2 linked regions of the Homo sapiens genome follow. The protein of the gene in region 2 purifies or fractionates together with the protein of the main gene of each other region. This does not show direct contact. Each region holds a gene or a part of one and is shown on either strand. Other genes may lie near its edges.

Region 1 (7,274 bases), on a different chromosome or scaffold from region 2:
TGCAAAGCCTCTCCAAAGAAAAGCCTGGACTACCGTCTCTCGCCCCTGGGCCTGGTCCCCGGCTTCTCCTGAACCTTCTGAAATGCCCATCAGAATGGGGAGACCTTTGGGGTGGGGGTGCTGGCCCCAGGAGACTTCTCCCTGGGGCCTGGTCTCAGGCCATGGTCCCATCTGTGGGACCCATGAGCCCAGCTCGGCACTGGAACCACAGCTCGACCCAATGCATCACACCAGTGCGGCAGGGACGGGTGTGGTTTAACCTCCACAAAAACATGACGTAGGACCCCATGCGCGGCCAGCACCGCTGAGAAGCGCGGCATCTCCCCCAGAGGGAGATCAGCTATGGGAGGAGCTGCACCCATGCCCAACAGCCTGAGGATCGCCCTATGGCGCAGGGCTGCTCCCTGGGCGGTCATGGACTCCAAGAGGCGCTGCCCGGAGGGGCGGGGGCAGCTCTCGGGCGCAATGCGCCTGAGTCCCGGGAACCCAGGAAGTCACCTGAGCGGCACACTGGAAGGGGGGGTCCCACCCACTCCTGTTCACAAAAAATCACAAGAGCAGAACCGACGTGGCGTAAGCCCTCCCTGCATCTCACGTTTAACCCTTGCCAACCACCCCCTGCCTTGCCAAGGGGGACAGGGGACAGGGCTTCCACAGCCAGGGCAGGCCTGCTCCCCTCGTCCAGGGCCCTGCGGCCCCACCCCCAGTCAGGCGCCTCGCTCTCGGCAGGAGAGGCGATGGATGCCCGATGCCCACGCAGGTGGGGCACTACTATTTGGGAGAAGCAACTTTAGAAAGGACATGGCACCCCCGAGTCCCAGCCGGCACCCCCGCGTCCCACCCGGCACCCCTGGGCCCCACCCGGCACCCCCGCGTCCCACCCGGCACCCCCGGGCCCCACCTGGCACCCCCGCATCCCACCCGGCACAGGAGCTGCACGCACGTCCTTCCACCGGGGCCTCACGCGCATGACACCCAAAGCAGAAGGTACCAGGACCCTGAGCCCCGTCGCGGCCGCAGGGCTGGCTGTGGCTGGAGGTCTCACTCAACTTTAACTCTAGTTAGGGCTCACTAGGCGAGTATTTCTCACAGTCAGAGCAAACTGGTATTCACCGCAAAGCCGCTGCCCGTCCAGAACACGCCCAGCTCCCGGCGCCAGAGCGCCACAGCGCAGCTCGTCACCAGCGTGCAGGGCACCAGGTAGAGGAGAGCGGGCTGGCCACGCTGCATCAGGGCCAGTGCCACGAATGTCACAAGGAGGCCAACGCCATAGGCTGTGGGGACAGAGGAGGCATCACCTCAGCCAGGCAGGCCAGGGCCACCACCCATTTCCCTGGGAAGAACGTGAGCGGGCTGGGGTTGGTGGAGGGCAGGGGTGTGCGAGGACGGGAGAGGTACAGTGGGGGTTCAGCCGGCAGGGCCACAGGCTCCCCAAAGTACATGGATCCTTCCGGCACCTCCTGGGCCACAATCCCACCCTGACCCTACCGGAGCCAGGGTCACCGAGGACATGGAAGGGCCAGGGCAAGGAGAGGGACAGGGAGGGGCAGGGTCCGGGCAGCTGCAGGACAGCGGGAGGCAGACGTGATAGCGGAGGGGGCTGCGAGACGTGTCTGGGATGCAGTTTCTATGAACCTCTGAGAAAATCAGCCGAAGGTGACACATGTGCCTGACCAGAAAACCCTTGAACACTGAGCTGTGGGCATATAAACTATGTTCTCAGGAGACACCCAGTGAAATGTTTGGGGTCAAAGGGCACGGTGTCCACCCACCGGGGCCGTGCCCCCAGTCCCCTGAGAACGCAGCCTGTGATTTACATACGTGTGCATGTAAATACACAAACGCACACATGGCCACCCTTGGCACCCGCAGGGGAGGGCTGCCAGGACCCCCTTGCTCATGTCCCTGACGTAAACTGGTGCAGTGTCTGCCTAGAACCCACCCGCGTCCTGCCAAACCATAAATCACCATAGGTTCCTACAAACGCAAACGTGATGTCGCCGCAGGCAATGGCTGTCGCATGGCATTGCTTCGGGAAAACTGGCCCAAAAAATCTGCATGTGTTCAGTACAGATAAGAACACAAATCTTTTCCCCAAATATTTTCAACCTACAGCTAGTGAAATCCACAGCTGCAGGAACCCATGGCTAGTGAGGGCCAACTGCAGTACACGGGGGAGCGTGAGTGTGTGTGTGGAGAGAGAGAGAATGGAATCAAGCGAATGAAAGCGTGAGTGTGTGTGGAGAGAGAGAACGGAATCAAGCGAATGAGAGCGCGAGTGTGTGTGTGGAGAGAGAACGGAATCAAGCGAATGAGAACGCGAGTGTGTGTGGAGAGAGAGAACGGAATCAAGCGAATGAGAGCACGTGAGTGTGTGTGTGGAGAGAGAACGGAGTCAAGCGAATGACAGCGCGTGAGTGTGTGGAGAGAGAGAACGGAATCAAGCGAATAAGAGCGCAAGTGTGTGTGTGGAGAGAGAACGGAATCAAGCCAATGAGAGCACGAGTGTGTGTGGAGAGAGAACGGAATCAAGCGAATGAGAGCGCGTGAGTGTGTGTGGAGAGAGAGAACGGAATCAAGCAAATGAGAGCGCGAGTGTGTGTGGAGAGAGAGAACAGAGTCAAGCGAATGAGAGCGCGTGAGTGTGTGGAGAGAGAGAACGGAATCAAGCGAATGAGAGCGAGTGTGTGTCGAGGGAGAGAACGGAATCAAGCAAATGAGAGCGCGTGAGTGTGTGTAGAGAGAGAACAGAATCAAGCAAATGAGAGCATGTGAGTGTGTGTGGAGAGAGAGAATGGAATCAAGCGAATGAGGGCGCGAGTGTGTGTGGAGAGAGAGAACGGAATCAAGCGAATGAGAGCGTGAGTGTGTGTGGAGAGAGAGAACAGAGTCAAGCGAATGAGAGCGCGTGAGTGTGTGTGGAGAGAGAACGGAATCAAGCAAATGAGAGCGCATGTGTGTGGAGAGAGAGAACGGAATCAAGCGAATGAGAACACGAGTGTGTGTGGAGAGAGAACGGAATCAGGCGAATGAGAACACGAGTGTGTGTGGAGAGAGAGAACGGAATCAAGCGAATGAGAGCGCGTGTGTGTGGAGAGAGAGAACGGAATCAAGCGAATGAGAACACGAGTGTGTGTGGAGAGAGAGAACGGAATCAGGCGAATGAGAACACGAGTGTGTGTGGAGAGAGAGAACGGAATCAGGCGAATGAGAACACGAGTGTGTGTGGAGAGAGAGAACGGAATCAAGCGAATGAGAGCGCGTGTGTGTGGAGAGAGAGAACGGAATCAAGCGAATGAGAACACGAGTGTGTGTGGAGAGAGAGAACGGAATCAGGCGAATGAGAACACGAGTGTGTGTGGAGAGAGAGAACGGAATCAAGCGAATGAGAGCGCGTGTGTGTGGAGAGAGAACGGAATCAAGCGAATGAGAACACGAGTGTGTGTGGAGAGAGAGAACGGAATCAGGCGAATGAGAACACGAGTGTGTGTGGAGAGAGAGAACGGAATCAAGCGAATGACAGCGCGTGAGTGTGTGTGGAGGGAGAGAATGGAATCAAGCGAATGAGAACGCGAGTGTGTGTGGAGGGAGAGAATGGAATCAAGCGAATGAGAACGCGAGTGTGTGTGGAGGGAGAGAACGGAATCAAGCGAATGAGAGCGCGTGAGTGTGTGTGGAGAGAGAGAGAACGGAATCAAGCGAATGAGAGCGTGAGTGTGTGTGGAGAGAGAACGGAATCAAGCGAATGACAGCGCGTGAGTGTGTGTGGAGAGAGAGAACAGAATCAAGCGAATGAGAGCGCGTGAGTGTGTGTGGAGAGAGAGAATGGAATCAAGCGAATGACAGCGCGTGAGTGTGTGTGGAGGGAGAGAATGGAATCAAGCGAATGAGAACACGAGTGTGTGTGGAGGGAGAGAACGGAATCAAGCGAATGAGAGCGCGTGAGTGTGTGTGGAGAGAGAGAACGGAATCAAGCGAATGAGAGCGTGAGTGTGTGTGGAGAGAGAACGGAATCAAGCGAATGAGAGCGTGAGTGTGTGTGGAGAGAGAACGGAATCAAGCGAATGACAGCGTGTGAGTGTGTGTGGAGAGAGAGAATGGAATCAGGCGAATGAGAGTGCATGAGTCTGTGTGGAGAGAGAACGGAATCACGCGAATGAGAACGTGAGTGTGTGTGGAGGGAGAGAGAACGGAATCAAGCGAATGAGAGCGTGAGTGTGTGTGGAGAGAGAACGGAATCAAGCGAATGACAGCGCATGAGTGTGTGTGGAGGGAGAGAATGGAATCAAGCGAATGAGAGCGCGTGAGTCTGTGTGTGGAGGGAGAGAACGGAATCAGGCAAATGAGAGCGCGTGAGTGTGTGTGTGGAGAGAGAACCGCATCAAGCGAATGAGAGCGCGAGTGTGTGTGTGGAGGGAGAGAACGGAATCAGGCGAATAAGAGTGCGTGAGTGTGTGTGGAGAGAGAACGGAATCAGGCGAATGAGAGTGTGTGTGTGTGGAGAGAGAACGGAATCAAGCGAATGAGAGCGCGAGTGTGTGTGGAGAGAGAACGGAATCAAGCGAATGAGAGCGTGAGTGTGTGTGGAGAGAGAACGGAATCAAGCGAATGACAGCGCATGAGTGTGTGTGGAGGGAGAGAATGGAATCAAGCGAATGAGAGCGCGTGAGTCTGTGTGTGGAGGGAGAGAACGGAATCAGGCAAATGAGAGCGCGTGAGTGTGTGTGTGGAGAGAGAACCGCATCAAGCGAATGAGAGCGCGAGTGTGTGTGTGGAGGGAGAGAACGGAATCAGGCGAATAAGAGTGCGTGAGTGTGTGTGGAGAGAGAACGGAATCAGGCGAATGAGAGTGTGTGTGTGTGGAGAGAGAACGGAATCAGGCGAATGAGAGCGCGTGTGTGTGGAGAGAGAGAACGGAATCAGGCGAATGAGAGTGTGTGTGTGTGGAGAGAGAACGGAATCAGGCGAATGAGAGCGCGTGAGTGTGTGTGGAGAGAAGGAGAACGGAATCAGGCGAATGAGAGTGCGTGAGTGTGTGTGGAGAGAGAACGGCATCAAGCGAATGAGAGCGCGTGAGTGTGTGTGTGGAGGGAGAGAACGGAATCAGGCGAATGAGAGTGCGTGAGTGTGTGTGGAGAGAGAACGGCATCAAGCGAATGAGAGCGCGTGAGTGTGTGTGTGGAGGGAGAGAACGGAATCAGGCGAATAAGAGTGCGTGAGTGTGTGTGGAGAGAGAACGGAATCAGGCGAATGAGAGTGTGTGTGTGTGGAGAGAGAGAACGGAATCAGGCGAATGAGAGCGCGTGTGTGGAGAGAGAGAACGGAATCAGGCGAATGAGAGTGTGTGTGTGTGGAGAGAGAACGGAATCAGGCGAATGAGAGCGCGTGAGTGTGTGTGGAGAGAAGGAGAACGGAATCAGGCGAATGAGAGTGCGTGAGTGTGTGTGGAGAGAGAACGGCATCAAGCGAATGAGAGCGCGTGAGTGTGTGTGTGGAGGGAGAGAACGGAATCAGGCGAATGAGAGCGCGTGTGTGTGGAGAGAGAACGGAATCAGGTGAATGAGAGCGCGTAAGTGTGTGTGGAGGGAGAGAGAACGGAATCAAGCGAATGTGAAGAAATGACCAGTCCCTCTGAGAACGGGGCACACGGGAGTTCTCTGTAGCGATCCTGCAACTGTCATTTGAAATTATTTCAAAATAAAGCTCTGAGAAAATTAATTATTTGCTAGAACACTCTTAAAAAAAGAGCCGCTGTGTCCAGCAAGCACACTGCTCCCGGCACTTTTTCTAACACCCATCTCTGTATTTCTGACGCCATGCCACGGGGAGCGTCCCTATTGGTCCATTTTAGGCCATCCACGTGTCCATCAGCCATCATCAACAGACGCAGACAGACACAAACAGGGAGGGCTGGCACCTATAAAGCCTCAGCGGCTTCAGTCTCAGGAATTACAGGGACAACTTGACAAGTTATGTTTCAGGAGAGACAAATCTCTGCAGCTGTGTTTTTATTTTTTCTTTCATTTTATTATTATTTTTTCGAGACAGGGTCTCACTCTGTTGCCTAGGCTGGAGTGCGGTGGCACGATCATGGCTCACTGCAGCCTTGAACTCCCAGGCTCAAGCGATCCTCCCACCTCAGCCTGCAGAGTAGCTGGGGCTACAGGCACATGTCACCATGCCCGGCTAATTTTTGCATTCTTCTGCAGAGACAGGGTCTTACTATGTTGCCCAGGCTGGTCTTGAACTCCTGGACTCAAGCAATCCTCCCACTTCAGCCTCCCAGAAAGCTGGGATCACAGACATGAGCCCCCGTACCCGGCCTCAGCCGTGATTTTAAAGGATAATCATGAAGACAGTAAAATCGGGCGAGGGGAAAGCCAGGGGCACCTGCAGCTGCAGGAGGCAGGTGTGAGGGGACAGGCCGGCCTGAACTCTCCTGGCCCTGGGAGTGGCCGTTTAGGGAGCCACGTGGAGGGCAGGGTCGGGGGCGTGGCTCGGCAGAGGAGGCCTGGCCTGGCCCTGTGCCCAGGAACCAGAAAGCACCACAGCTTCTTTCCTTAGGGCCAGCTGCGGTGGGGGACATTTTTCAAAACAATGTGGGTCAACAGATAACAGCACTTTGCGTAAATACGTTCATAACAAAAGAAACAGTAGAAGACAAGGCAAAGAAGAAAAAGACAAAAAGAGGAAAACAGGAAAGAAAAGGAAAAGAAAAGAACAGAACAATGGAAGCCAGGGAAAATGAGAAAGACGGGGACGGAGGCACAGGCCCAGGGAGAATGAGAAAGACCAGGATGTGGACACAGGCCAAAGGAGAATGAGAAAGACGGGGACGGAGGCACAGGCCCAGGGAGAATGAGAAAGACAGGGACGGAGGCACGGACCCAGGGAGAATGAGAAAGACGGGGATGGAGGCACGGGCCCAGGGAGAATGAGAAAGAGGGGGACGGAGGCACAGGCCCAGGGAGAATGAGAAAGACGGGGACGGAGGCACAGGCCCAGGAAGAATGAGAAAGAGGGGGTTGCAGGCACAGGCCCGGGGAGAATGAGAAAGAGGGGGATGCAGGCACGGGCCCAGGAAGAATGAGGAAGATGGGGACAGAGGCACAGGCCCAGGAAGAATGAGAAAGAGGGGGTTGCAGGCACAGGCCCGGGGAGAATGAGAAAGAGGGGGATGCAGGCACAGGCCCAGCCACCCGAGCCCAGCTCCCGGAGTGGCCAGGGGGTTAGGGTTAGGGTGTTATGGTTACGGTGTTAGAGTTGGAATTAGG
Region 2 (7,395 bases):
CTGCTATCAGATTGTATAGTCCAAGGGCTGTGGAATGCTGGCACCTAGGTTGCTTGTGAGAAGAGACACTGTGGCTTGTGTGGGATGCAGTGCCACTGGTGGCCAGGACTGGCAGGTCGTCTGCTTATGAAGTGCCTGAGGCCCCGCTTTTGGAGAGGCACTGACTTGTGGAGTTCTGCAGCATAATGGCAAATACTGGGGCCCCACCAAGAAGCCATGTGGTCCCTTCCCACTATTCATCCCATCTGCCCTATTACTTGCTGCTCAGCCTCTAGAGAAAGGGTATTCTATGACAAGGACTCACAGAATTAGGGCTACTATGACAAAATACCAAAGACTGAGTGGCTTAACTAACAGAAATTATTTTCTCATAGTTCTGGAGCCTAGAACTCCCACATCAAGGTGTCAGCACATTTGATTTCTCTCTCCTTGGCTTGCCTTCTCGCTGTGTCCTCACAAGGTTGTCCCTCTGTCTGTCTGTGTCCTAATCTCCTCTTCTTATAAGGATAGCAGTCATAGTGGATTAGGGCCCACACTGACGGCACTGTTTTAATTTTATTACCTTTTTAAAGACCCTGTCTCAAAACCCAGGCACATTCTGGGTACTAAGGGCTAGGGCTTCAACACACAAGTTTTGGGACACACAATTCAGTCCATAAAAGAGTCTGTCTAGTTCTTACCAAGCTCTGTGACTGGGCTGAATCCTGTAGCTTCTCGGGTCCTGAGTTTCTTCCCAACTTGAAAATGAGGTTTGTGGCTCTTGCTCCCAATGCTGATGTTACACAGCTTACTTTCCATCTTCCTTGTGAACATCTCCTTGGGTTCCAGTACAGCTAGATATAAGTAACAATGGCAGAAATGCAAGTACGGTGTCATTACATTTAATGTTTTCCAACCCTGTATGCATGTAGTGGGGAGAAAAAAAGAAGTGAGAATGTCCAGAGTTGAAAGCAGTCTGAGACTTCATAGGCCACGTGAAGGTTGGCTGTAGAACTTAAGATGGGAGAGAAGCAGGGTTGGGGGAGAACAAAAGTAGGGGAGAAGGAGAATTGATATATATTTGGGGATTGGTCTGTACCAGAAACTGTAATCTCACTGAAGCTTCACAACAACCTCACGAGGTGGGTATTATTATTATTAATAATAATAATTAATAATAATAATAATAATTATTATTATTATTAATAATAATAATTATTATTATTCCCATTTTACTGGTGAGGACACTGAGGCTCAGAATGCAGAGCTGGGCTTTGCTATTTCAGTCTACCTAGAACTCAGAGGAACCTACGCAAGTCAGCTCTGCCGACAGCGTTGGTTGAACATGCTTTGGCACCTCTTGCCTTCCTCCCCGCAGCATTGCCCTGTCACAGGTGACAAGAGGAAGACAAGGTTCCTGTCTGTTTTGTTTGGTAGTTCTAAAAAAATGACATGACCAATTCTGTTGTTGTTGCTGGTTCAGTTTTAGTGAATAGGTAATGTTCACTGAAAATATATCAATAGATATTAACAAGCAAACAAATAAAATTCTGGCACAAGCAAAACTAAGCCACAGTGACAGAAAGCAGATCAATAGTTGCCTGTGGGAAGAGCGGATGAGTATAAAGGGGCCTGAGAGGACTTCTGGGGGAGATGAAAATGTTCTATGTCTTGACTGAGGTTGTTGCTCTACATGTATGTACTTGTATAAAAACTCTTCAAACTATACACTTAAAACAGGTGAGTTTTTAGTAGTAGTAGTGATGTTTGGATACCTGTAACTTTATCTCCATTAGAAATGTCAGATATTTTAATATCATCAGTTAGTTTTTGCAGGTATCTTGAAATATTATTCATGTTCCTCACTACTGGGATAGTTTTGCAGATTCATGTTCCTCACTACTGAGATAGTCATTTAGCCTGTGCACTAGACCTTGCTTTTGATGCCTTCATAAAGCATAGATCAGAAAAAAGGTGAGTTGTTGTATGTAAATTACACCTCAATAAAGTTGATTGATACAAAGAGAAACAAAATCACCAGAAATCCCACCACCAAGAGATAACCACTACCATTTTGGGGTTTTTATGCTGCCAGGGCATTCATCCCCACCCCGCCACCCCCGCACATGCTGTGTTACACTGTGTTCTGGGGTTTTTTTTCTCTCTGTCTACGATATATTATAAAAACCTTTCCACACCAGTACACAGAATGCTGCATCTGTATTTTTACAGTGGTAGAATACAGCATTATGTCAACAAAACATGTTTACTTCACCAATTTGTTGTGTTGGAAAATTAAGATGTTTCCAATTTTTCACTCTTAAAAACACTACCATGAATATCCTTGTAACTAAATATTTGAGCATATCCTTAATGATTGCCATAGAATAAATTTCTTCCAGTAAAATTACTGGGTCACAGGCATTCACGTTTTTAAGGAATTTGATGTATCTTTCAAAATTGCCCTACCTAAAAACTCTATCAATTTAGGTGCCCATTAGCCATCTCTTTGTCTCTACTGTAGACTCTCAATGTGTAGACTCAGCATTGTGACTCTCCACGGGAGCAGACACAAGGTAAGTCCCAGTAACTGACATATCCTGAGATCCCACAACTTTAGAAGCTATTGAAACCTTTCAAAGTCAGTCCCAGCCCTAACTTTAAATGAAATTCAAGACCCATAAAGGTTCAGGGGTCTGAAAGCACTCCTACTGCTCCTACTGAGCACATCCAGGATTCTGACTCCGGACTCAGGCCAGAAACCACCACACAGCTTGCTAACGGAACACTGAGTCAAAGGACCAGCAAAGACCTCCTGCCATCTCAGGCTTAGAGATTCCCTAGTCTCTACACCCCCTTAATCTGTTTGAACCAAGCCTTGCTCCAGAGCAGCCGGGCAAAGGAGCCAGGGATCTCAGGAGTCACACACACTGTTGACGTCTCAGCACAACTCCGGTTGGTTGCATTTTATTTCAATCCTTGGCTCTGCTGCACGTGGCCTTGGGATGGTTATTTAACCTAAGGCTCAATTTCCTCAACAAAAAAATGGAGTTGGTAATTGTACCTAGCTCACAGAGTTTTAGTAGGATGGCATGAGGTAATACAATCAAATTCACTAGCACCACTCCTGGCCCTTAAAAGGTGCTGCTATTTGGTAAGTATTATTATCATTTGTTGGCCCCTCACACTTAGCCTCAGGCAGCAGAGAGGCCTGAAAGAGAACAACTTCCTGCCCTTACATTCTGACTTTTCTGCACTGGTGTCGCTACAGAAGGCCAGCCACCAGGCTCATTTTAGATCTGCCTAATGCCACCGATAAGCTGAGGGCTTGAAACCCCATTCTTAGGAGTGGCTTGCCCACCCCGCATGCCTCTAGGACCAAGCCTGACAAATATAGCAGAAATTACAGGCATCTGATTTAAGGCTACGTGTGTACACTTCGCCTGAGCCAAGCCCCAAGCCCTAGTCCCGCTGCTGCATCAAAGGACCAGCTCTCTTCCAGCCTCCAGGCCCAGAGTAAGCAGCAATTTGGGAGGCAGCCCCCTCTTATTTTTAGCTTTAGAAACCCGAAAAGCCAACATACCAGAGCTCACCCAAGCGTCTCTCACAAACTGTTGTTTGACTTGGGTTGAGAAAATGACAGGCTGGGTTCTGCACCAAGAAGAGAAGAAAAAAAGAGGGGGAAAAAAGGAGTTTTCTTTTCCCTCCGCTGCCAATCTCCATCCCCCTCAACTCCTCCCCTAGGCCTGGGTGGACCCTGCCTGGGTAATAGTTCCCTGCTATATTTAAAAACCACAGATGTGTTTGGTGGAGACTTAATTTCGGAATTGCAGGCAGCGTCTCCTGAGGACAAGGGGAAAGCCGGTGCCGCGCGCCCGCCTGCTGCCTGGAGCTCCCAACTCGGCGGAATCCAGGTCAGGACGCGCCGCCGTTTTGACGTGCTGCCGGCCGGGAGGCGCGGGCGCCAGGCTCCAACGACTAGGGTGGGTGGCCGCGGGGCAGGGGTTGGATCTGAATTCGTCCCTCGGGGGCTCTGGATGCGGGATGCGGGATGCGGGATGCGGGCTCGACTTCCTCGCTGCTGGTCGAGGAGCGTTCTGAGAGTCTCCCCTCCGCGCGCGAGGATAAATATGCGCGGCTTGTCAGTCAGTGCGGCGCTGTCTCCCAGCTGATAGGGTGACGTTCCGTTTGGAGGCTTGGAGATTGGCTTTTTGATTTGGCTTCTTCCGGCAGCTTAATGGGCAAAGCTCTCCGCTCGCCCAGAAACCAGCCTCTCCGCGCGTCCCCTCTGCGCGCGGCGAGGCCGAGACGTCTCCCGCGGTGACAGCGTGCAAGGCGGAGACCCGGCGCGCTCCCAGCCCAGGGAAAGCCCAGGCGACGCGACCGCAAGCCCGAGCCCAGGTCCCTCGGAGCCGCCAGGGCGCGCCGGGCTGCTTGCCTTCCTGCCCCTTCCTGCAGGAATCCCCCGCCGCCCGCGGCCGGGACTCCGGGCCTCTCCCGGGCGTAGATTCCAGTCACCGCTCTGGGTCGGGGTTTCCCTCTTTCTGAAATCCGTGCGGAAGGACCCCTCCCGGGGCCCCTCGCCCTGGCCCCAGACACCCTCCCTCCCAGACCCCGCGCTCCAGATGCGCTGCCCCGCAGCTCCCTGACAGCTGCGAGCCCACGAACCCCGGCGGGAGGGCGGCGGCGGCGGACTGACATGCCCCGGACGCGGCTGCGGCCGGCGGGCAGCCCGCGGGGGCGATGAGCCGCTGCGACCGGTGAGGCGCCGGGCGGCGGGGGCATCGCGTACCTTCCTCACCCCCCTCCCTTGCCCACTCCGCTCGGGAGGCCGAGAGGAAACGGTGAGTAATGGGGTGAGCCTCCTGCCCTTCCCCCTTAGCGGGCAGCCGAGACATGGGAGGTAGAGGTTGGGGGGCTTGGGATGCCCCTAAGAGGATCCCTGATTGTGAGTAACGGGGTTAAGTTATTTCTCAAGATCATTCATATGAACCGCCTTCCTGTGGATTTAGTGCCAGGAGAAGTGGGGTGAGGGTGCCCCGGAAAGTGTACATTGTGTATGCAGTGTTGGGGGGGCAGATCTGGCAGAGTGGGTGTCTACAGGAGGGTGCCGCCGGGTGGGGAGGGGCAGAGAGAGATGCCTGGGCAGGTGGGTACAGTTGGATCGTGAGCATGCTGGGTTGGTAGCGGGTGCTGTTTGGGGAGACTGACTGCTGTGTTGTGTGTGCTGGATGCATGTCGGCATATGTGTGCCACCTGGGCCAGGGCGTGTTGTGCTTCTGGTGCTGTGAGTGTCCGCCGGGTTTGGGGGCTAGCAGGGAAGCGCGTTATCCACTCGGCGCGCGCCCGCGTGCACATACGCACGCACGCGCTCACCCCAATCTCGGGACTCCACCGCCGCGGGTCGGGAGCTGCAGCCCCAGAGCACCCACCGCTGGGGCCAAGGGGGCGAGGGAGAAGGAGGGTTTCTCCAGTGCTGCACTCTCCAGCCCCTGGTGGTCTGCGTGATCCGGGACTCGGTGGAGAGAATCGAAATATATAACTAACCCTCCCCCGATCCCCCAACACACACGCGCGCGCGGACACACACACACACACACACACACACACACACACACACACAGTCAAAGCCCTGATTCAGAGGCTAGCGCTGCTGCTCCTACAGGCCCTGGCTGACCTGCCCAGAGGACCCGAGCCACTGGGAAAGATGATGAAAGCAATTTGCTCCGGGGAAAAAAGCAGTTCTTCGTCTTAATTCATTGTATTTTATTTTTAACGGTGTGGTAGTGGTGGTGGTGGCGGGGTGGGGTTAAATAGAAGAAATGCCTTTAATGCAGTACCATAAATTTACCCGCTCATCGCAGCTTCCTTCTCTCTCTCTCTCTCTCTCCCCCCGCCCCCCGCTTCTCTTCTCTTCTCTCCTCCTTTCCTCTCTCTCTCTCTCTCTCTTTCTCTCTCTCTCCCCCTTTCCTGGCGATTAAAAAACATACCTCCGAACGCATTCGGCGGTTAGGTCTCCCGGGCAGAAGAATTAAAACTGGTTTCAATTTATCAGAAACGCAGACTGCAGCAGGCGCAGCCAAGCTCCTGGGTGGTCAAGAAACACCCGAAGGGGGTGGGGGGAGGAGGGAGTTGAGCGGGGGTGGAATGTGGGTACGTGATAGGAACACATCCGGCCTTCCGGTGGGGCACCAAAAGGGAAGCCTCCTCGGCCCCTGGCGACCCGGTGACTTGCAGCGGCGTGTGATTAATCTTCCACAGCTGTCGTGCCCCATCCACTTGAGCTGAGCTCTTGTTTACCTCGATTTTCAAATATAGCTGCTGCGCCATGCTCTTCCTGAAATAGGGGGATCAGTTCACCCTTTATGGGCTCTTGGCTTCGGGCTGGGGCTTCTTTTTGCTGGCGTCACTGGCTGGATCCAAGTTTGAGAGGAACCTGCCCCTTCATGCATTGCAGGTCTCCAAAGGAGGATGGCTGATGGTCAAAGCTTAGGGTAACTAGATGTGGACTGATCAACCCAGCCCCTCATTGCAATCTACAATGCCCAGCAGCAGTCCCCACACACAAGTCCACTTTGTAGCCTCCTTTTTCTTTAAATGAAATGTAGATACTGGGTTGAGAGGAAGCAGATAAGGCCTATAGAACTGAACTTGGTTGAAGTGGTTCTTTCTTTAACTTGATGGAGAAGGGAAGGCCATTCATGCAGTTTCCTCCGCTTGGAATGCTTTATTCTTCTTCCAACATACTCCTAAAGTACTCCTACTCAAGCTTCAGCTCTCAGCTCACTAGTTACTTCCTCAAGGAAGCCTTTCATATTCTCCCTGACTAGGCCACATCCCTGCTTATTATACACCTGTATTAGTCCGTTCTCACACTGGTAATAAAGACATACCCAAGACTGGGTAATTTATAAAGGAAAGAGGTTTAATAGAGTCACAGTTCCACAGGGCTGGGGAGGCCTTAGGAAGTTTACAATCATGGTGGAAGGGGAAGCAAACATGTCCTTCTTCACATGGCGGCAGCAAGAAGTGACGAAAAAAAGGGGGAAAAGCCCCTTACAAAGCCATCAGATCTTGTGAGAACTCACTGTCACAAGAACAGCAGCATGGGGGTTACTGCCCCCATGATTCAATTACTTCCCTGGCTTCCTCCCAGGACACGTAGGGATTATAGGAACTACAATTCAAGATGAGATTTGGGTGGGGACACAGCCAAGCCATATTTGGCCGTGGAGTCCATTGGACTCCAAAAGAAAAATATTTGTTTATTCATTCGGTTAGCCATTTATTCAATAAATATTCAACAGCCACCTACTCTGTCAGGCATGTGCTAAGTCCAGATGCAAATAAAATAGAATGGACCCTTTTCTCATAAACACTCATAATCTGAACTTATATTTTTGAAGTAATTTAAAG

What was found.
Region 1: the proteins of SLC8A3 (region 2) and SPPL2B purify together in Homo sapiens (affinity purification with mass spectrometry; 3 studies listed by BioGRID and IntAct, with this or other methods). This does not show direct contact.

The regions. Positions count from the first base shown.
Region 1 is NC_000019.10:2,345,434-2,352,707, reverse strand, and holds part of SPPL2B (signal peptide peptidase-like 2B isoform 2 precursor), read right to left. Parts: intron 1,275-7,274; coding exon 1,114-1,274; coding exon of another isoform or gene 1,093-1,113; exon of another isoform or gene 1,051-1,092; intron 1-1,050. UniProt on the Homo sapiens protein: Intramembrane-cleaving aspartic protease (I-CLiP) that cleaves type II membrane signal peptides in the hydrophobic plane of the membrane. Functions in ITM2B and TNF processing.
Region 2 is NC_000014.9:70,185,807-70,193,201, reverse strand, and holds the start of SLC8A3 (sodium/calcium exchanger 3 isoform D precursor), read left to right. Parts: upstream 1-4,250; 5' UTR 4,251-4,823; intron 4,824-5,969; exon of another isoform or gene 5,970-6,094; intron 6,095-7,395. UniProt on the Homo sapiens protein: Mediates the electrogenic exchange of Ca(2+) against Na(+) ions across the cell membrane, and thereby contributes to the regulation of cytoplasmic Ca(2+) levels and Ca(2+)-dependent cellular processes.